Linked DNA regions of Homo sapiens: regions 1 and 3 are each linked to region 2. The links come from fine-mapping of genetic effects on gene expression. A gene starts in region 2. Each other region holds a variant in brackets. All regions are shown on one strand. Distances are from middle to middle.

What was found. PIP is the estimated chance that this variant, and not a neighbour inherited with it, causes the effect.
Region 1: its variant is the best candidate, but not a certain one, in a credible set for the expression of CMTR2 in whole blood (TOPMed, PIP 0.89).
Region 3: its variant is the best candidate, but not a certain one, in a credible set for the expression of CMTR2 in whole blood (TOPMed, PIP 0.54).

What each region holds. Positions count from the first base shown.
Region 1 is chr16:71,255,111-71,263,074 of GRCh38, forward strand. No RefSeq gene overlaps it. Among named protein-coding and RNA genes, the nearest start is that of HYDIN, 28 kb to the left of the region's middle. RefSeq lists a silencer at 675-911. The variant A/C (reference allele first, on the strand shown) is at 3,159.
Region 2 is chr16:71,285,783-71,293,746 of GRCh38, forward strand. It overlaps CMTR2 (cap methyltransferase 2), which reads right to left and starts at 3,620. Exons shown (of 3, transcript NM_018348.6): 1 at 3,354-3,620; 2 at 3,096-3,155; 3 at 1-157. The coding sequence starts at 138. It overlaps LOC102723786 (a long non-coding RNA gene), which reads left to right and starts at 3,018. Exons shown (of 4, transcript XR_933707.3): 1 at 3,018-3,173. RefSeq lists silencers at 3,373-3,742, 3,823-3,892.
Region 3 is chr16:71,243,929-71,251,892 of GRCh38, forward strand. No RefSeq gene overlaps it. Among named protein-coding and RNA genes, the nearest start is that of HYDIN, 17 kb to the left of the region's middle. The variant A/G (reference allele first, on the strand shown) is at 3,527.

The DNA of each region.
Region 1 (7,964 bases), 31 kb before region 2:
ATCCCTGAGCCCTGAGATTCTTAAGAGGATGGGGGCACCAGGAACATAAATCATACTGCCAGGCCAGAAAACAATGTCTCTGTTGGGTTCCCAACTATATTTCAATTCTGCAAGCCACAGCTGTGCTTCCCACCAACCCAGGCGCTAACACAACAGCAGCAGTCCAGAAAGGGGAAAACATAGGCCCTAGAGTAGGGCCACTTTGGGTAGGAAAAAAAAGTGCAAATGTATTCTGAAAGCAGATGGTGTCTGGAAGAGAAAGTGTGTTTGGCAACAAGAAGGGAATCACAGGGGAAGGAGAGAAAAGCAGTAAAAGAGAGACAGCCAAAGGAGGTGGTAATTAAGTGCAAAGCTGAAGATTTCCAAGGGATTTTTCAGCATTGGCAAGAGTCGGGCCTCTGGACAATTCTGTGGAAGTGTGTAGAGATTGTTTTTCATTTCTTTTCTTTATTAAAAGTATTCCACTAGAACAGTGCCTCTGAACCATGATATTCTGACAAGAGTTTGTTAGCAATGCTCCAAGTATTAAAGTTTTCCAATAATTTACTTTTCTTTATAAAGAGGAGCTGAGGTTGGCTGTCTCCTTGCTGCCATTCTAATATGCTTCCTAGGGTGGGAGACAAAGCCACAGCCAGCCAGGGTTGAGCGAGTTGTGTACAACCCACACACTATTTGTCTCGCCACCTCCTGACACTGTCACTCTTCTCCGGGCTCTGGAGCTTCCTGTGGGGTCACTGTCTGTAACAGACAAGAGTCACACCCTTCTCAACCCTTTTACAGCATTAACCAAGGCACAAGCGTCTGAACTGTCCAATAACAAAGAGATTAATTGATGGATTGTTTTGTACCAAACTGCTTGCTGCCACAGCTGCTCAAAATGTTAATAAGCACTGCTGAACTATGGCCGCTCCAGCAGGGAACAGCTGTAGAGGCTAGAGGCCAGCTCCCCTGCCCAGTGAGGGACAGATGTCCTTATGTCTATATCGGCCCCTGTGCTCAAACCAGCAACAGTTCACAGACAGGATTATGAAAGGTTTTGCATTTGGTCCTAAGTAATCTTTTAATGTCACATAACCTGAACCAAAGCCAAGAATACATTATGACAGTACAAATTATCAACTCTATCTTTGAGATAAGATGTATATTATGCACTAAACTCAAGGTCAGGAGACAAGTCTTCTACTCCAGACATATCAAAGCCTTTCTGGGTCTTATAAAATGGGGCTTGTGATTCAAGTTTACTTTCAACAGGAAGCTTTTGGTTTAAATGAGTTCAAACATTGCATGTAAAGCGCTGAGACTTCAGATACTTGTAAAATAAGCTCAAGTTTAATCTCACATTATATATATATATAACGTATAATAAGCTCAAGTTTAATCTCACATTTTATATCTATACATACAATATGTGTGTATGTATGTGTGTGTGTATATATATAGATATGGAATAATAAATTAGATAGTCCTTTCTATATTCCACCTGTATCTCACTTACCCCACTTGAAGGTAGAGTTCACTTGTAAATATGTCAGCTGCCTCTCTCAGATAAGGACTTCTTTTTTTTTTAACATGACTACAATGACTTTGTCACGTATAACAAAATTAACAAGTCCTTGATATCATCTAATTCTCAGTTCATATAAACTTCCCCCAACTCTCTCAAAATGTGTTTTTACAACTGGTTCATTTGAACCAGAATACACACAAGGTTCACTCATTGCATTACATACACACACACTCACACACACTCATACACACTTACATATTTTTCTCTAGTTCTATCCACTAGGAGTGTAAAAGGGGCTGGGAGCAATAATGCCCTAACGGTAATGACACCTGATCTTGGTTTCTAAATACTATTCTTTACTAAAAGGAATCAGAAGTCCTTGGAGAAATGTCTGTTTCAAGAGTTGGAGTAAAGAGAACACCAGATATGCCTGAACATGCTGAGCCAGAAAGCAAGGATGCACTCATGCACTCAAAGAAAGATGGGGTGTGCCAAGTGGACACAGAAGCCAGATTGATGGAGGGCTGACATTTCTAATCTGAGAAATGTGAGCATCAAAATCAATGATGATAGTAACAAATTATCTACAACTCATTGAATAAAATGAGAATCCAGGAGTCCAACTGATATAAATAAATGAATAAAATGAATGTTTGACGAGGAACAGGATATTTAAATATTTTCAAAGTATCTCCTCATAAAATACTTGTTAGTTACAAAGAGAAGAGAAACTTCACAGTGAAGAAGGCTGACAGGCACTGCCTTAATCAAGTGATCAAAGTGAACCTCATCAGAGATGGGACACACCAAAACAATGTTTCATGGGATAATAAGATGCAAAAGGAACAACACAGCTTCAGTTCTGTGATATTCCTTCCAAAACTGCACGACCTGAATCTCATCACAAGGAAGCATCAAACAAATCCAAGTTGAAGGACAGTCTACAAAGTAACTGACCTGTAATCATCAAAAGTGCCAAGGTCATGAAAGTCAGAGATTAAGAAACTATTCCAGAATGAAAAAGACTAAAGAAACTTAGGAAATAAATGCACCACATGATTGCAAGAAAAGGATCCTTTTGCTACAAAGGATGTTATTGGAACAACTGGCTTAACAGTGTTAAATTTCCTAATTTTACTGATTGGACCATGGTTATCTAAGAGTGTCCTTGTTTGTAGGAAATGCACACTGAAGTGTTCAGGAGTGATGGGCATCAGGTTGGTAACTGACTCTCAAATGGCCCAGGAGGAAAAAAGTAGTTTCTTATGCTCTACCCTGACATCTTCAGTAACTTTCAAAATCAGAAAAAGAAAAAATAAAAATACAAATACAAAGAATAACTTGCCTCATCAGCTATTTTTCCCTGAATAGAGTTCATATAGAAAAAAACAGAATAAATTCTTGATTCTGAACCTTCATTAATTTCCAGAGTAATGAGTTGGTACCATAGAAATTTAGAATGACAGTTTTCTAACGTATCATAATGAGCTCAGATATTTTTATGTTTGATATGCTTCAGTCAATTGCAGTGATTATTCTTTTTGATTCTCGTAATTGTTCCTGTTCCATTCACCACAACTCTGGCAGTCAATGGTTTTCTTCCTTCCTGAACATAACAAAAGGTTCCAGGTTCATCATTTACATTTCCTAC[A/C]CCAAACCTGGAATCAATTTTTAGACCTTGAATTCAGAGGAGAATTCCTTCCCTTTTAAATGAACGTAATTAATTCCTCTTTAAAAAAATAGATGGGCATGTTGGCTCACACCTGTAGTCTCAGCTACTCTGGGAGGATTGCTTGAGCCCAGAAGTTCAAGGTCAGCCTGGTAAACAAAGCAATAGGGAGAAAAAAATTCAGAACACTGCATTTTCTCAACTCCCTTGAAATTTGTTCCTTTTTTTCCCCTCAAATGTCTGGCTAGTTTTGGACTCCTTCCAAGAGGAATGGCACACAGAAAAGAGCTTACTCCAAGTCAGACTCTGTGGGCATGACAACCACCTGCTTCTTAGTGTAAGGAGAAGCTGGTAGAGGAGGACTAATCTAATCCTTTTATTAACTCCCTTGAATCAGAAATGACAGACAGTGATTAAATTTTGTAACTTTTCTCATTGCAAGCACTGAGAGACGGATCAGTGGGTTGACTTGTTTGTTTTATTTCTTCAGTAAAAAACCTGTACAAGTAGTAAGCAGGTCAATTTTCAGAAGCCTCTCATCCTAAAACGAGAGCTGGCCAGTGTTGCATTGTTCATCCCAGCCTCCCAGTGATCAAGTGAGGTCTTCATTATTTTGATGGAAGGAAGGAGAAAACAAAATCCACTCACTGATGCTAGAGAGAATTCATTCACTCATTCACGCACCCATTTAATTGAGAATCCACTACGCGCTGTTCTTAGTACTGAGGATATGCAGCGAACACAAAGAATAAACTCCTTCCTCTGTGGAGTTTACTTTCTAATGGAGGAAATAGACCATAGCAAGATAGATAAGTAAATTATAAAGTGCAGGAAAAACAAAGCATAAAAGGGCAATGTAAGAGAGATACAATTTTAAATAAAAGGTTTCGGGGTGGCTCCCACTAAAAAGGCGACATTTGAACAAACACTTGGAGGAGGTGACAGAGTAAGCCATGTGGTTTTTTAGAGGCAGAGAGTTCCAGGCAGAGGAAACAGCTTGTGTGAAGATCTTGACGTGTGAAAGTGCTTTGAATATTTGTGAAATTGTAAGGAAGCTGCTGTGGCTGGATGGCTCGTGCAAGGTGAAGAGAGAAGGCCAAAGACAGAATGTGAGGGCTGGGGACACAAAGCACCTAGCGCCTTGTAGGCCATTTTAAGGACTTGGACTTTTGCTCCAAGTGACATGGAAATTTGTCTCTGGTTTTTGAACAGAGGAATGACTTTACCCAACTTATTTTTCAATGAGATCACTTTGGCTGCTGTGTTGGGTATAGAATGAAAGGGAGCAAGACAGACACAAAGACACCATTAGAAAGCTATTGTAATGGTCTATGGGAGGTGATGGTTGCTAAGAAAGGGCAATAGCAGTGAAGGAGGTGAAAAGTTGTCACACTATCAATAACTTTTAAAAGTAGAGCCAACAGGATTTGCTGAAAGACTAGATACAGGAGCAAAAGGAAGAGAGGAGTCAAGGGTAATCCTTAGAGTTTTGGCCTGAGCAATTTGAAGGGCAGAGGTTCCATCCACTGACATGGTGAAGAATGTGAGAAGAGCAGGTTTTGGGGAGGTTGCTCAAGAGCTCAGTTTTGGACAAGGTAGGTTAGAGATGTCTACCAAACAGCCAAATGGAGATGCCAAGTAGGTGATTGAATATACAGTTCTGGAGTTCAGGAGAATGGTCTAGTCTGGAGACATATATTTGGCCATTGTTGTAGGCAGAACAATGTCCTCCCAAAAGATGTTCATGGGCCAATCCTCAGAACCTGTGAATATATTTCCTTACACGGCAACAAAAGGACTTTGCCAATGTGATTAAAGGATGGACCTTGAGATGGGTGATTATCCTGGATTCTCTGGGCAGGCCCAGTGGAATCAAATGGGTCCTTACAAGCAGATAACTCTTCCTGCTGTGGCCAAAGAAGGCTCCAAGAGATAAGATTTTGTGGGCTTTGAAAATAAAGGAAGGTAGCCACAAGCTCAGAAATGCAGGAAGCATCTGGAAGCTGAAAAAGGCAAGGAAACAAATTCTTCCCTAGAACCTCTAGAAAGGAAGGCAGCCCCACTGACAGGTTGATTTCAGCCCAGTGAGACCCATGTCAGACATCTGACCTAAAAACTGTAAGGTGAATTCATGTTGTTTTAAGCTGCTATAGAAAATTAATGCCAACATCATCAATATAGAGATGATATTTAAATCCATAAGAGACAGAAGGGAGACGATGTCTTGGGACTGAGCCTTGGGGTATTTGAATGTTAAGTCGGGGAAATGAGGACCCAACAGAGATGACTGAGAAGCAGTGGACACAAGATAGGAGGCAAACAGGAGAAAATGGTGCTCTAGAGGTCAAGACAACAATCTGTGTCACATGCTGCTACATGGTTAAGTAAGATGGGGATCAAATTAGGAAACAAGACAGAACAGGGAGAGCATATGTGCTCAGGCCAGCTGCTATAGAGAAGGAAGAATGTGGACCCTGGTACTTACTACAGGAGAGACAGGCAGGGTGCAGTGGCTCATACCTATAATCCCAGCACTCTGGAAGGCTGAGATCATGGGAGGATCACCTGAGTCCAGGAGTTCAAAACCAGCCTGGGCAACACAGTAAGACCCTCATCTTTACAAAAAATACAAAAATTAGCTGGGAGTGGTGGCACACACCTGTAATCTCAGCTACTCATGAGGCTGAGATGAGATGATTGCTTGAGCCTGGAGGTTGAGGCTGCAATGAGCTGTGATTGCACCACTGCACACCAGCCTGAGCAATGGAGGGAGACCTTGTCTCAAAACAAAACTAAACAAAGCAAAAACTTACAGAAGAAACACATGAATGGCACCCACTCAGAGTGCAGACTTTTTCATACAGAGGGACTCTGGTCACTAGGAAACTTGGCCCAACTAGAATACTGGAATATTTCCAATCATATTGGCACTCCTTCCCTTTGGGGAGGGAGGGTATGAAAGTCAGCAGTACAGAGGAAAGAAGAGGAAAGAGGAACAGAATGAAATTTCAACTTTCTTTTACATTATTGCCTTTCCTTTTACCACCCAACATAGTCTTAGCCCTCCAAGGCCATTACTTGTTAAATAGCACATTCCCTAACCCCAGGGCAGTTAAAATAATAGCTCAAGACCAGAATATCGTTTTCTCTTAAAGAAAATATGACCAGCCGGGCACGGTGGCTCACGCCTATAATCCCAGCACTTTGGGAGGCCGAGGCGGGTGAATCACGAGGTCAGGAGTTCAAGACCAGCCTGGCCAAGATGGCGAAACCCTGTCTCTACTAAAAATACAAAAATTAGCCCAGCATGGTGGCAGGCTCCTGTAATCCCAGCTACTGGGGAGGCTGAGGCAGAGAATTGCTTGAACCCGGGAGGTGGAGGTTGCAGTGAGCCGAGATTGTGCCACTGCACTCCAGCCTGGGCGACAGAGCAAGATTCTGTTAAAAAAAAAAAAAGAAAAAGAAAAAAGGAAAAGAAAATATGACCTCATCAAAATTAAAATACACAACCTTCCAGTACCTGGCATTTTATATCAACCATAGCTTCAGACAATGTTTTGTTTTGCCTTCCTTCACCTCAAAACTCAAGAGTTAGCTGATCATCTCTAAGAGACTGATTGAAGTCAGGTGAGGAGAACCCTTGTGACTTCAGACAAATATAGCCCTTATCACACTGTCTCATACTGAGCTGTAGTTATTTGTATACTTGTTCATCTTCTTCACCAGACTTGAAGTCCTCTGAGAGGGGAGACTGTGCCCTTTCATCACTGAATTACAAGAACAATAATTCCTGAACTTCCCATTCATTGAACTTGTCATACAAGTCAGACATGGTGCTAATTGCTTTCAGGCATTTAATTGTCAGGCAACTCTGTGAGATGGGCATTATTTATTCCATTTTGCAGGAAGGTTAAGAAATTTACATAATAGTCATATTAAATTGGAGACTGACAGAGCAGTCCAATGCCCAAATCTGTGCTGAATGATGGCCCCACAAAGATGTCCACATCCTCGTTCCTGGAACCCATGAACGCTACTTAATATGGAAAATTGGACTTTGCAGATGTGATTAAATTAAGGATTTTTGAGATGGGAAGTTTATTCTGGATTATCCAACTTGGCTCAATGTAATCACAGGGGTCCTCCTGAGAGGGAGGCAGGAAGTCAGGTTGAGTAAGAGGAGATGCGAAGAGAGAAGCAAAAGTTGAAGGGATGATGAAGGAGCCATGAGCCAAGGAATGCAGATGGTCTCAAGAAGCCGCAAAAGACCAGGAAACAGATTCTTCCCTAGAACCTCCAGAAAGGAACAGAAACAGCCCTGCTAACATCTTGATTTTGGATTTCCGGACTTCAGAACAGTAAGATAAGAAATTTGTGTTGTTTTAAGCCACTGAGTTCATGGGAATTTGTTACAGCATCCATAGGAAACAGACGCAGTGCTCTTTGCCTCTGTCATTCTGTGATCCTTACACCCCAGGACCTGAGGCAGTGCCGGATATGCAGAGCACTCCATGAATGTTTGCTAAGTGAACTGCTGAAGGAGGAGGAGATTCTCCTCTAAGCCTTCTCCTGCCTGGCACAACCTAAACTCCTGACCAAGAGAATCCAGCCTACCCCAGAAAGAGGCAGGAAGGAGCAGCCCAGGTAAATCTGAGTTGATATGTCTTTTCCTTATTGCTAAGTTGGATGGATGAGCTAATTATAGTCTGAACCATGTTTTGTGTCAGTCATTGCACCCCTGGAAGACATGACAAAATATAAACCTAATTTACAGCTGTGATTTAGAGC
Region 2 (7,964 bases):
TAACTGCCACTCATTATTAAGTGGCTTGCCATAAGAAAAGTTCTTGGCAAAGAGTTCAAAAATGTCAGCAAGAATATCTGGGCTGAATGACGCGGGACTTGCTAGCTGCTGAACTGGTGTCTTTCTGCACTTACTCATTTTCAAATCAAATTAAAATCTAGGAAGAGAAAACACATAATTAAATGAATCAAATTTATTAGTGAGCGAAATCTCATGAGCAGCAAATACGATCACACTCATGACAAACTCCATAAAATGGGAAGGCTAAAGTCAGCATACTCTGTTATTTAACCAAGTAATCTGGAATAATGAAAAAGGCTTTGATATCCAAGACCTGGGTTCAAATTCCAGCTCTGCTAATTATGGCTTAATAAGCACCCTTGGGCAAATTCCATCTCTTGGATTTGGTTTCTTCTCATTAAAAAAAAAAGCCTATCATTTTTTAAGAAGAAGATAAAACATACTAGCATATAAAAAACATATAACAAAGCATAATCATCAGTGAATGACAGCTCTGATTATCATAGTAACCCATCTAACTCTTCCCCAAAGTTCTTCCCTACCAATGACTGTGACAACACCTACATGACCTCAAACAAATCCATCCTTAGAGATTCATCCCTGGACATGACCTTTGTTCAAGCTCTAACATGTGACTTTTCGTTTTTTTTTTTTTTAGTTCCCGTCATACTTTACCTCCTTCAGGGAGAGGATCATGTACCTGAACCCAGTACTGATCCTGCCACAAGCCACTTACCTCACTAGTAGGATTGTTGAATACATCCTCTGTCCAGATTTCATTCTCTAAGACAGGCACTTTGGTGGTACCAATCACCTATACAGGTCATCAACTAACGTTCATCATCATACTGCTTGTAAACTGTGCTGTACTTGAGTGGTTAGCCTTTTTCTGCTTGATGCTGAAAGTGACCAACTGTTTACCCGGTATGTCTCAAACTATAGATTCCTGGCTTTCATATGGTTCAGACAGCTCCACACTTCCACCATAACATATCATTATTTCTTCTAGCCACTAAAACTTAACACTTGGATAGCAGAATTTTATACTGAAGAAATATACATATTGAATATACAAATTACAAATAGTCACTCTACATACTCTGGCAGTCAACACTGCCAAAGAAACCAGAAACAAAGAAACCTCTTCCTTCTGAAGAGGAAAAAGGATATGAGAAGTATGGCTTAATGGCATAGTTTTGGAAAAGTTACAAATTCCAGCAGGGAGAGCAATGAATATTACATGGTACCTGTTAGTGCAATGTTAATCAATAGATGCTTTAGTTCACAAATTCTGCACTTATTTAGCATACACAATGCATTCTACAAATGATTTTCAAAAAAATCTGAATTTGTTAAATATGAAAAAATTGGCAATCAAATCATCACTCCAGAAAAGCAGATGTTCAAGGACAAAATGAGAAACAAAGGGAACTACTGCTGTAATACATACAATAATATTCAGATGATGTTTCTTTTAGCATTTACTTTGTACTGTTCTTTTAGCACACTTTTTTCATTCTTTCTTATTTTGTTTAAATTATTTGCAAGTCTACTCTACCAGTTTGTAATTTCCTTGAAGTAACAGGTGTCTTCTTAGTCATTTGTTTGCCACGGTATATTTATATTAAAAAAAAGTTTTTTTTTGAGACAGGGTCTCACTCTGCTACCCAGGCTGGAGTGCAGTGGCACAGGTCATAGCTCCCTGCAGCCTTGACCTCTTCCCAGGCTCAAAGGATCCTCCCACCTCAGCCTCCAAAGGAGTTGGGACTACAGACGTGCACCACCACACCCAGTTAGTTAAAAAAAAAATTGTGGAGATGGGGTCTTGCTCTGTTGCCCAGGCTGGTCTCAAAATCCTGGGCTCAAGCAATCCCTCCAACTCGGCCTTCCAAGGTGCTGGGATTACAGGTGTCAGCCACTATGCCTGTTTTTTGTTTGTTTCTTTTTTACTGGTAGAGCTATATTTAGACAAATTTCTAAAGGAAGACAAAACTGAGGTGTTTCCACATTCACTAAAATCTTAAAATAAGGGCATATAAAAGTTTTTTTCAACAAGCTCCTCTGTCTTAATTCGCATTGTGCTTGCTGGAAACTACAGCCATGTTTAGATCTCATCTATACTCTATTTCGGAAAAAGTCTAATTTTAATCATTAACTTCACATACTAATTAACGGCTGTAGTTAAGCTGTGAAACCTTACCTAAGCTAATAGGAAATTACCTTCACATGAGGACAACTTAAGTGATTCAGACACTCCACCGTTCTGACTATACTTTTGCTGTGTTGCCACCTAATTTTTATTACTACTCCCTTACTCACTACTCCAGCCAAACAGGCCTTTCTGCTGTTCACTGAAGACACCAAGCACATTCCAAGACAAAAGTCTTTCTGCATTGGTGGTCCCTCTGCCTGGAATGCTCTTTCCCCAGCTGTCAGCACAGCTAACTCCTTCACCTCCTTCCAATATTTGCTCAAATGTCATTTTCTCAGTGAAGCCTACCTAAGATTGCATCTTGCATTCCCCATGCCTCTTACCTCGCTGTATTTTTTTCCTATGGTACTCATGTACTTCCAACCTATAACTTCCTTCTTTTTGTTTACTGTTTATTATTTGTCTTCCCCAAACTAGAATGTAAGCTCCACAGGACAGAGATCTTTGTTTTGTTTACACATAGACCATTCCAAGAAGTTGGACATTGCCTGGTACACAGTAAGCACTCAGTATTACTGAATAAATGAGTGGATATCATACTTAGCACAAAAGGGATCTCTCTCTTCAGGTTCTGAATATGAGTCATTAATAGTGCACCTCAACTTCACTCCAGCACTTAAATGCATGACTTAAAAAAAAAAAAAAAAGCATGTGGCTTACAGCGTGTGTGGAAAAATTTTCCAGTATATGATCCTCTGAGCCTTTCATTAAACAGTCCTTTGAGCTTTGTGACATCATAATTCTGCTAAGTGGGTCGCTATTACCATTCTCATATTGCAAACTCAAGTAGGCAGTTATGTAGCCCCCGCCCAAATTAGTGAACCCAAAACAAAACCCACAAGATCTCATCAACAGTTTTTACCTCACAGCTGACACTTATAAAGGAGTTCCAAGTGCTTCCGCCAACTCCTCCTACCAGCAACTGTGAAAACAACGGCCAGTGAGTATCCAGGGCTGACTTTGGGCCGGGCACCCCATATCTCATTTCATCTAGTGAAGTAAGTCCCAAACCCCACTCCAGAGGCCCGGTCCCTGACCTGGAGGAAACTCAGTCCCAGCCCCTGGCTCACCCGCTGGGAAGTCGAAGGAGGGCCCGGAATCGTACCCAGGCCTGGATTACCTTCGCCCACGCCCACTGGGGCCCCAGTGTCTGGAGAGGCTGCACTTTACTCTCTCGAGGAAGCCATTCTGCACTTCCGCTCTCGGGGCTGCTTCCCGGGATGGTCCCTCCCTTTGGGTCCGCGGCGCCTCCAGCCACAAGGCAGGGAGATGGTGCGCCGGACTGGGGGGAAGGCTGTCCGGACCCGCCCTCGCGGCACCGGGAAGCCAGTCCCACCTCCGGGCCCCGCAGCCGCGAATGCCGGCAGACAGGGACCAGGAGGCACTCAAGTCCCACTGCGCACGCGCCCTGTAGGCCGGGCCGGAGTCACGTGCGCCAACGTTACGCACGCCGGCGACTCTCGCCTCGCCTAGGCCTCAGCTCCCTAGGTTTTGCTTCGCGGAGTACAGAAGCTGGGAGGCGCCAGCCTCCCGCCCCCGGCCACTATGGCAACGGAAGCGGCGCGCGCAGGCGGAGCATTCTTTGGCTCCGTCCCGAAGAGGGGTGAAAGGGAGAGGGACAGGGAGGCGAAGGGGAGGGGGAGGGGGAGGGAGGGAAGGGACGGGGCAAACCTGTCTGTCAGGACGTGCTGGTTCCGCTCACTGGCTGCTGGCCCCAAGGGCTTTCAGACTCTTCTGGACAGTTGTTACTTCCTGTACAGACTGGGTTGAAACTGCAGCTCAAAAGACGATAGGTTAAAAGCCAAACTAGGGAACTGCAAGATAAGATTGTTTATATATACATGACATAATATATATTAATTATGTTGCTTAATAAGCCAATAAGAAAAAGGCCAACAACCCCAGAAGGAAAATGAGCAAATATTAGAACAGGCCTCCCAAAAAACAAAAAAGTCAAACAAATAGCCACTAAGGATATACAAAACTGTTTAAACTATTATTAGACAAGAATGGAAATGAAAACAGCAAGTTTTCTTTTTACTCGGTTTAGCAAAGATGTAAAACCTTGGTAATGACCACTGTTGGTGTGACTATGGGGAAACAGGTTTACATCTGTGGATGGAAGAAAAACGTTATTAGAAACCTTACGGAAGGCAAACTTATTTATTTGTTTGTTTACTGAAACAAGGTCTTACCCTCACCCAGGCTGGTGTGCAGTGGCTCGATCTCGGCTCACTGCAGCCTCAACTTCCCCGGGCTCACGCGATCCTCCTAGAGAGATGGCATCTCCCTATCTTAGGCTGGTCTGGAACTCCTGGACTCAAGCGATCCGTTGGTCTCGGCCACCCAAAGTGCTGGGATTACAGGCATGAGCCAAGCCGCCTAGCCCAGAAGGCAAACGTTGAAAAGAGACATGCACTTTGGCTGGGCGCAGTGGCTCACGCCTGTAATCCCAGCATTTTGAGAGGCCGAGGCGAGCGGATCACGAGGTCAAGAGTCCGAGACCAGCCTGACCAACATAGTGAAACCCCGTCTCTACTAATAATGCAAAAAATTAGCCAGGCGTGGTGGCGGGCGCCTGTAATCCTAGCTACTTGGGAGGCTGAGGCAGGAGAATCGCTTGAACCCGGGAGGCGGAGGTTGGAGCGAGCCGAGATCTCACCACTGCACACCAGCCCGGGCGACAGTGCGAGACTCCGTCTCGGGAAAAAAAGAGGACATGCATTTTAACCCAGCAATTCCTCCTCCTCGCAGTTTATCCTTAGGAGATAATTAAACAGCTGGCACTCACTTTGGACAAAATGTTCATTTCAGCATCTCAATAACATAGCCAAATGGAAATACTCTAAATGTCTACTTTAAGAGAATTAATTAAATTATTACAGTACATCTATATAATGCACATATATGCATTATATGCAGCCATTAATAGGCTGTATGTGTCAACAGTATTGCATGAAAATAGAAGAATATTAGAATTATGTGTAGAGTTTTTAACCATTTATGTAAATAGATATATAGACATAAATGTAAAATTCATTTTTTACAAGTCTTCCAGAACATGGACCAATGGAGAAAAGATTATATTTTCACAAAATAGTGGTAGGTCATTTGTGTCTCTCCATGCAAAAAAAATTGTATTTGGACCCTCCTTACATCATAAACAAAAATACATTTCATTTGGATTGTCAGTCTGTATTTTAAAAGTTAATAAGAAAACATAAGAGAACATCTTTGCAACCTTGAAGTAGTCAAAAAGTTTATAACAGGACACAAAATACTAATCATAAAGGAAAAATGTATAAATTGAACTATATTAAAACTAAAAATATTTAGAGCCTGTAGTCCCAGCTCTAGGGAGGCTGAGGCAGGAGGATGGCATGAACCCAGGAGGTGGAACTTGCAGTGAACCGAGATTGCACCACTGCACTCCAGCCTGGGTGACAGAGCGAGACTCCGTCTCACAAAAAAAAAAAAAAAAAAAAAAAAAGAAAGCACGGGCTGGGTGTGGTGGCTTATGCCTGTAATCCCAGCATTCTGGGAGGCCAAGGCGGGCAGACTGCTTGAGTCCAGGAGTTTGAGACCAGCCTAGGCAACATAGTGAAACCCCGTCTCTACTGAAAAACAAAAAATTAACCTGGCATGGTGGTGTGCACCTGTAATCTCAGCTACAAGGGAGGCTGAGGTGGATCACCTGAGCCCAGGAGGTTGAGGATGCAGTGAGCTGAGATCACACCACTGCACTCTAGCCAGTACAACAGAGTGAGACCCTGTCTCAAAATAATAATAAAGTACAGGGATTTATTGCAAAGTGAATAGCATTTATACAAGTAAGTGCTATATTGTGTGGTACAAGTTAAGTGTTGTAGGAGTCTAAAGAATGAAGTTAGTAGGAAAAATATAGGAAAAGACTAGGGAAAAAGAAACTTTAATTTCTGTTCTTTTAAGGGTGAAGTTACGTGGGGAAGGGGAGTGCCAGCCTAGCTCAGGAAAATAATGAGTGAAAAAACAGGCAAGAGGACAGGTAATGTAGATTTGCAGAAAAGGGATGGAAAGTTAATACGTTTAAATGCTAAATAGGTGGCTTAGGTGCTATATATAGTGTCTTAGCTTGGGCTGTGTATTAGTCTGTTCTCATGCTGCTAATACAGACATACCTGAGACTGGGTAATTTATAAAGGAAAGAGGTTTAATGGACTCACAGTTCCACATGCCTGGGGAGGCCTCACAATCGTGGCAGAAGGCAAAGGAGAAGCAAAGGCACGTCTTACATGGCGGTAGTCAAGAGAACTTGTGCAAGGGAACTCCCCTTTATAAAACCATCAGATCTCATGAGACTTATTTACTATCATGAGAACAGCATGGGAAAAACCTGCCCCCCATAATTAAATTACCTGCCACCAGCTCTCTCCCACAACATGTGGGGATTATTACTTTAAGAGTTAAAGAAAGAGGAAAGAAATATGAAACAAGGCTTAACAGTCAAAGACAGGTTTATTTTAGAGAAAAAACCTGAGGGGGCTTCTGGCTGATTTTGGTCAGGAGCACTTTCTCTTCCCGACTAAGAGTATAAATTGGTTTTAGGGTGAGCAGGTTTATCACAAGCTTGGATGTTTCTTTGGGGGTGGGGGGAGAAGTTTATGGTGGGGTTGGAATGTTTCTATTATCTTGGCCTGACATCTTCCTGGCCAGAGGGGAGTTATCTGAGGCTAGCATCTTCCTGGCCAGAGGGGGCTTATCTTGGGGCTAGCATGTTTCTGATCAGGGAGGAGTTTGGAATGTTTCTGGTCAGAGATGTTATTTGTGGTTTATGTTCATGCTGACCTTAGCCATTAGGCTGATGCCCTTTGGATTTAGGTGGTTTTTGATTAAGGTGAATTTTTAAATGACAGTCCTTGTCCAAGATGGCGATACTCCTGCTCTGTCAATTATAATTCAAAATGAGATTTGGGTGGGGACACGGAACCAAACCATATCAGGCTGTTACAACAAATACCAGAGAGTGTGGCTTAAACATCAGAAATTTGTTTTCTCAAGTGGGAGATTAGAAGTTCGAGATTGAGGCTCTCTTACTGGCTTGCAGATGGCCAGCTTCTTGCTGTATTCTCACATGGTGGAGAGAAAGCAAGCTCTCTTGTCTCTTCTTCAAGAAGGGCACTAATCCCATCATGAGGACCACATCCCCCTGGCTTCACCTAAACCTAATTACCTCCCAAAGGCCCCATTTCCAAATACCATCACACTGGGGATTAGGGAATTTGGGAGGGTGGTGGGATTCAGTCTTTAGCAGGTATTGAGGAACCAGAGTACAGAAGACCATGGAAGGCAGACTGAGGCACCAGATCTGCTGCAATAAGAAATGGTCAAGAGGGAAAGAAATAACTAAGCTTGGTTCTTACAGAGTTAGGAACAGTCATGGCGTAGTCAAATGGAAATATCCATAGGGGAGCTGGAAATCAATGGGTGGCTAAAGTTCAGGTGAGAAAACTGAACTGAGGTAACACTCAGCCCTGTGGATTTTCAAGTACCTACTTTATTATTATTCATTATTAGCAATCATTATGATACTTAATTTAGTAGTGGAATCACTACCCAAAATTGTTAAAGCACTAGCCCTGGGGACTCTCACTTTTCATAGCTTGCCTAACACTGTGGGAGGCTGGGATCAACATGACTTTTTATTTTGAATAGGGAAGGGCATCAGCTCTGGCATCTCAATGCCTGGGTTAAA
Region 3 (7,964 bases), 42 kb before region 2:
GGGTTAATGGCAGCCAGTGATGACCGTGATCTGATTTAGTCCTAGCTCTTGACCCTCCAGAGATGATGATGACTTTGAAAACTGAAGGACTGACTTTTGGTGGGGAATGAACAAGGCAAAATCTAAAATTATGTTACGATTTAAAAAAAAAAAGAAAAAGAACTCCCCCATACAGGAATAGAACCAAAAAAAAGGAGAAACAAAAATTAAAACAGAATAATAGCAATGTTGCAGACTGTTTGTTAAATATTGCCTATCTGCACTAAGAAAAGTAGTCATGCCGCAAATAAAACAGCAAAAAAAAAAAGAAAGAAAGAAAGAAAAAAAAAGCATTTCAAAATATTCTTAGTGGTTCCATTAATGAGGGCAAAATTGAAGTCTAGTGGAAGAACACAGTGGCTGATGTGTGTGTGTGTGTGTGCACGCGCACGCACACCCATGCTCATGCATACCTCTTGAGAGCCGAGGTAAAGATGAGGACACAAACCTAAATCCACATAAAGTGGAATACAGGCCATGTTTTTCTGTGTGTTCTTCGTCTTTCTGACCAATTTGGTCTATATCAATGTCTGCACCCTGCCACAAAACCCTTAATAAACAGTCTTAACTTACGCTACTGGCAACTGTAACTGCCAGAGTTATCAAGAGCCATGGAAGACTGAAACCTTCTCTACCATGAATAAATGGGACTCCCAAAGAGGGTGACAATACCAGTGGTTTGGTTACAGCTGCTGCTTGTATCAGATGATCCATAGATGTTTTCCCACCCCAGAATAACAGTTTTTGTTCCTCTCTGAGGAATGAGTTTGGTTATTAGCTCAGGAAATGAAACAGTTTCCAAATCAGTGGTGACTATTTCTGCACAGTCTCTGCCTTTTCCCATAGCACAGCTTCATTGAGCTGGTAAGAGCTCAGTCTTCATAAATATGTAAAGACAGCATTCATCTTCCTGATTAATTAATCCAGTAACTGATCCAAGCTCTTGCCTATGAGTGCTCTTGGACCCATGGCTCCTATTCTCTCCACTCTGGTTTCCCCACCTGGGTCAGCCCTTCTCTTCATCTATTGTTGGGTAGCGTATAACAAAAGGGGTCCCTGGTCTAGACTGTTCCCACGTTCTCCAGCAGGCTGCCTATGAGAATTTCACAAATTCCTCATGCACTTTTAAATTTTAATAACGAAGATTGTGGATTTATGTGAATAGCGACAGATGGAATCTGAAAGCCAATTAATTTTGTCATTAAAGTATAATATAGGACAGCCGTATTACACAATCAAGCATGATGAATTATTTTTACATCCTGTGACATAGACAACTGGCTATCCCATGAAAGAAGGAATTCAATTTGCATTTAAATGCCATTCCCAGAATGTGACAGAGGCTCTCTGCATTATATAAGTTTCAAGAAGCTGAGGTTTGGCCAATTAATTTTAAGAAGTGTTTGTGATTGAAGTGCAAAAATGAATGGAGAAGTCAATACCTCAATGAAGGATCTTGTGAATGGCCCTCAGCCAGGGGAACCAGCCGCGCTGTGCAGGGGATTCCTGACCCACAGCAACCAGGAGATAAAAGGTGCTCTTGTTTTAAGCCACTAAAAAAGAAAAAATGAGTTGGGATCTTGTTGAACATCCACACACACACTTCTGGGCAAGTATATTTTCTCCTTACCATCTTCTCAGCTTTTCTAAACTTGATACAAACGATGCAGCAAGTGGGCAGGGTGTGTTCACCACCCTTTGGGCCATGGGTACCTGGAGAGAGATATGCATCCCCAGTGAGGTCTACACATTGTACACGCATGTGCATGTATGCACACACACAAATATACACATAGTTTCATTAACTCTTCTGGAGAAAACAATTTAAGAAAATGCCAACTTCTTTTTCAGCTAATTAAATGCCTATAGCCCATTAATTATAGATTAAGGGAACTAGTGTTTACCACAAAGTCATCTGGAGCTAGCATCTGAAGAGGTTGAATTCCATACTGAGAAGTTGGAACATTATTCTGTATGTGACAGAAAACCATTCTAAGATTTATGAAGATGGAGTTGGTATTAAACCACTAGTAAGTTGAAACTACTAAGAAGAATAAAATGGAGAGGTAGGGAAGTGGAACCTGGCAAACCAGTTGGGGCTATGGTAATCATTTATGGAAAAAATAATACGGGGTTAACCAGAGGCAGTATGGATAAGAGAAGGGGGGAATATGGAAGCTCTGGGGCAATGGCTTCTTAGAAATTGACTAGGTGGATGGAGGATGGAGAAGAAAGAGTAGATGCAATTTCTAGCCTTCATGACTGTGTGTGTGATGAGGCCATTAATAGAAACAGCAACTATAGGAGGAAACACAGGTTTGAGGAAGAGGGAAAAACGATCATACTCTCACTTTTTAAACAATTTACTTACTCCTTTGATATGATGGGATGACAATACTACTTTACCTCTATGATCTTCCTCCCCCAAACCCATAACCCCAGTTTAATTATGTGAAAAACAACAGAAACAGTCCAATAGAGGGGCACCCTATAATACCCTTGACCAGAACCCCTTAAAATTGTCAAGGTCAGCAAGAAAAGTCTGAGAAACTGTCAGATGAGAGAGGAGCCAAAGGGGACAGGATGGCTGAATGCAATGTGGGACCCTGGAGGGGATCCTTGAATAGAGAAGGTCAGATATTAAGTAAAAACTAAGGAAATCTGAATACATTGTAAACTTTAATTAATAATAATGCATCAGTATTGGTTCATTAATTGCAACAAATGTATCATAGTAATGTAAAATGTTAATACTAGGAGAAACTGGAGAGTGGGGTTTGGGGAGAACCTATGAGAACTCTGTAAAAACCCCCTTATAAAGAGGGGTGGGAGGCTTGCTTACTAAAGTTTTGTTTGTTTGGTTAGTTGATATTTTTTTCTTTTTGGGGACAAAGTCTTGCTCTGTTGCCCAGGCTGGAGTGCAGTGGCACCATCACAGCTCACTGCAGCCTTGATCTCCCAGGGACAAGTCATCCTCCCGCCTCGGCCTCCTGAGTTGCTGGGACTACAGGTGCATGCCACCACGTCTGAATAATTTTAACATTTTTCTGTGGCGATGTGGTCTCACTGTGTTTCCCGGGTTGGCCTCAACTGGTCCTCCTGCCTTGTCCTCCCAGACTGCTGGGATTATACATGTGAGCCCCCATTCCCAGCCATTTTAAAAACTTTTGTGGCCGGGCGTGGTGGCTCATGCCTGTAATCCCAGCACTTTGGGAGGCCGAAGTGGGTGGATCACGAGGTCAGGAGTTCAAGACCAGCCTGGCCAAGATGGTGAAACCCTGTCTCTACTAAAAATACAAAAATTAGCTGGGCATGGTGGTATGCGCCTGTAATCCCAGCTATTCGGGAGGCTGAGGCAGAGAATTGCTTGAACCCAGGAGGCGGAGGTTGCAGTGAGCCAAGATCGCGCCTCTGCACTCCAGCCTGGGGTACAGAGCAAGACTCCATCTAAAAACAAACAAACAAACAAAAAACACCTTTTGATATC[A/G]GTAACCCATCATGGGAGTTGGGGGACACCGATTAAATAAGCTCTTGTTCCCCATGTGCAATTACTCCATTACAGATTAGACCACATCACTGATAACGACCACCTACCTGGATGAGAAAGCTGAGATGGCCGAAAGCAACTCGTTGCCTTGCGTAAAAGCTACAGTTTCTTGTACTGATGTTGAAATGGCCAGAAGGGGCATGTATGAGTGACGTAGTCATGTGACTGTGGAGGGGAAAGCCAGCCTGAGAAGGACATGTTTTTTTCAATGGCCGAGTTGGAGCTGCAAAGGTACTATGAATTCATACTTCAAAACTGTGCCTTTGAGTTTGTTTGCTTGTTTGTTCTCTGTGTGTATGTGTGTGTGTGTGTGTGTGTGTGTGTGTGTAGATGAGGTCTCACTATGTTGCCCAGGCTGGTCTCAAACCCTGGGGCTCAAGCAATCTTCCTGCCTTAGCCTCCCAAAGTGTTGGGATTACAGACAGGCATGAGCCACTGCACCCTGTGTGCGTGGCAGGGGGAGGGGGTGAGTGGCTGGGTGGGCGTGTGATTGCTGGGCCTTTGGATTTCATCCAGCAAACACTCACCTCCTGGGCAAGCTGGGTACTGTTAGATATTAGGGATATGAGGATAAATGTGTGAATGCGCCATGTCTGCTGCCCATAAGGAGCTCACAGTCTACTCTACAGACAGGATGGCGAATAATTACAGTACATTGCTAGAGCCAGGATGTTCTGTGTTAAAAAGAAAAAGAGTGTTTTGGAAGTGCTAAGACAGGAACAATGAACTCTACCCAGGAGGGTGGTGAGAGAAGGCAACACCAAAGAAAAAGCTTGTGAACTGGGCCTCCAAAAATAAGTAGGTTCTTGCCACGTTGAGTGGGAAAGGTACTGTAGGCAGATGATTCAACATTTGCAAAACACAACGACATTCAACAGCATCATGTGCTTGGGTAAGTGGCAGCTGGAGCATCCGGCAAGGGATTCACAACCTGGGAGCTGTGAGAAAGGTCTGTTAGGGAGAAGAAGGGCTGAAATCAGGGAGACCAGGTAGGAGGCTACTGTCATAATTAAGGCTGGAGAGGATGAAGCTCTACAATCATGGGATAATGTTAAAAGATGCCCTCACTCCTACCTTCTCATTTCTCCACCAACACATTCAAGCCAAACAAACTTGAGTCCCCAAAGGCCTCTGCTCTTGGCAATGCAGGAAGGCCTAGCATCTGTTTCTTGAGCAGCAGAAGCCAGACGTTGGTAGGGCCCAGGCTTCTTATTCGAGAGCCCCAAGGTACAGGCCCGTGCCCATTCCAGAGCTCACTGGGGAATTCCACGCACATGCCCACCATATGCTAGGTAACTTTTTCTCTCCAGTACAAGTCCTCTCTGTTCTGCCTGCTAGAAGGGGCCCTTTCTAGCAGGCAGAACTGCTAGAAAGCAGCTTTTCCAGGAGCACTTCGACATAGCTTCCAATTTTGAAGCTGAGAAGCTGTAGAGAGGACTGATTAACAGTCTTTTTTGTTTCCAAGAAGACATAGACAGCGCCATGGACATGCCCGTTTCCTCTTCTCTTGAAAACAGTGAAGAAAACCTATGGCAGAGAGTTTGCTCAGAAGCCAGGTGGCCTCATGAAACCTCAAGGGTTTAGCCTCAAATCTCCATTGTTGTTGTCAAGGGACAGCTCGAGGAACTCAAGCCCTGTGATCTGGTACGATGGTTCCTGTTGGCACTGTGGCCCCATGGCTTTGCTGTCCTATTGGTGCTGCGAAGAGCCAGGTAGCGGGATGGGGAAGGCTTACTTTGAATCCTGGCTCTATCACACACTAGATGCAGAGAGGTAGCTAAGGTCATACAACCTCAGATGACTGACTTTACCTCTCTGCATCTGTTTTCCCTTTTGTAGAAATGGGCATGTTGACAGAACCCACTGCAAAGGGCTGTTGTGAGGATTAAACCTTATGCTCTAAGTAATGTTAATATACAAAGCCTAACACATGGTAGTCAAAGTTAGCTGATAGATGCCTTTTGCAAAGTCAGCCTGCACTACTTCTACCCCCCACACACATACCAAACACAGGCTGCTTGTATGAGTAGAGGCCTAGGGGGCAGTGGTGCATCCTGGTGAAGGGTTGGAGCTCAATAGCCAGGGTTTGAATCCTAGCTACTGCACTTCCCAGTTTACAAATGAGGAACCCAGAGCCCTCACTACCGTTTTTGCTCATTCCAAACAGCTTAATTTTTTCTGTGCCCTCTTTTGTAGCTCCTATAGTCAGGCCTTCCTATTTCTACCTCTGGGGGACCTGCATGCAAAGCTTAATTCCTTTATGGATTTCTGCAAAATATTCACTCTCACTATGCATTTAATGAAGTAAGCAGCTTCCCTTATCAGTAAAATGGGAGTAATCATAGGAACTGCTTCATAGGGTTACTATAAGGAGTGAGACTCATCCATAGTGTCACGTGTAGTTAGAGTTCATTCATTCTCATTGCTATGTAATAGTTCATGTTACAAATAGACTATGATTTATTTATCCATTCTACTGTTGATGAAGATTGGGACTGTCTCCAGTTTGGAGCTATTACAAATAGAGTGGTGCTATGAAAATTCTTGTACTCATCTTTTGGTGAACATACATTTACAATTTCTGGATCAGAGGTATCAGCTTTAGTGGATACTGCCAGCAAGTTTTCCAAAGTGGTTGTTCCCATTTAAATCCAAACTAGCAGTGTATGAGAATTCAGTTGCTCCACATCTTTACCAACACTTAGTATTTTTCTGATGTTTTCATTTTAGCCATTCTAGTGCATCTGTAGAGCTATCATATTGTGGTTGCAATTCACATTTCCCTGGTGACCAATCAAGTTGAACATCTTTTCATGTGTGGACTAAACACAGTGTTGGCACACAGTTAGCATTCAACAAATGTTAGCTATTATCATTAGTACTGTTGTTCTCTGATCAGTGAAACTCAGCTTTTTCAAATGGGGACATGGGCAGAGACTTGGGGAAGGTTTTCAAATGTTAAACTTTCTTGGCCTACCATTATCATCCATGTGTGCGTTTCCCTATGCCTCCCTCTTCTCCTGGTTTATTTCTCTGTAAATAACACACATCGCCTCTCCCAGAGTGCAGACATGCTGAATAATAGGAAGCGAAAGCCAGGTGAAACTTCTGACCGGCACCCCAAACAGGTTCCCCCGCTTCACAGATGTGTCACCTCCAAGAGAAGCAGAAAGGATCCTCCCCCAGAAACCTCCTGGAATCTCATCTATCTGGCCCCACTCCCTCTAGCTTCTTCCTGATGAATGGCTTTGACAACTTTCTCATTATTAGGGCCTCTTATCCAAGTCTGACTTGAATCTTTAATGCCTTCTGTTAGGAAAGATGCATCACTTGATTTTTAGGATGCACACACAATTCCCCTTGCAGAGCCAGTATCCTGAGGGGTTTGTTAATGCATCAAACCATGGACCTCTGAGGAAAATTCCTTGTCCCCAAAACAAGAAGACAGGTTAAGCTGTACCCTCAGTTTAGCTCCCACTGGTAAACTCCATGAGAAAAGAAAATAACCAGCATTGTGTAATTGGGGGTGGAGTTACATCTTACACAATCTTTGTGAAAGGGAGAAAAGGAAGCCAGCTTAATAATTCCCAAACTAGGTCAAAAATTTATATCCATGTGTATATAAAATAGTCTTCATTATCTTATGTAATAAACATGATTTTATTATCTCAGTCACTGGGTTAAGAATTCCTTTTAGTGAGACCCAACTTTGTTGGGAAGACTTCTTGGTATAATCTCCTCATGAAATAAAACGTGAGGACCCCTGCTACCAGGGACCTTGCGGGGCAGGAATACTCCAGATAAGATAGAGAACAAATTTCCTGATTGCAACAAAGATTGAAGGGAGGAGAAAGAAAAAGAGGAATAGTGAGAAATGGAATGGATGATTAAAGGCTGTTCAGTGGAATCTGCGACCCCCTTAAGTCTCCTAGAAAGCTGCTTACTTCGTTAAATGCAGAGTGAGAGTGAATCCTTTGCAAAAACCATGAAGGAATTCAGCTTTGCATGCAGGTCCCCCAGAGGTAGAATTTAAGAAAGCCTGAATATGGGAGCCACAAAGAAGGGGGCAGAAAAAAATTAAGCTGTTCAGAATGAGCGAAAATAGTGGTGAGGGCTCTGGCTTCAGATAAGCTCAGGGTGACCAACTTGTCACAGTTTGTCCAGGATTTTTCCAGTGTTAGCCTTGAGAGTCTCACAACTCAGGAAACCCCTCTGTCCCAGGCAGATTTTAGCCAGAATGTACAATTGAAGGTTTGAGTTTTATCTAAATTTCTTAGGACCAAGGACGTCCAGTTGATAACTGAATTATAATTAAAATGGCACCTAGACTGTTCAACTTTTGGTTTCTGGGTTTGACAACGTTCGACACACGAACATA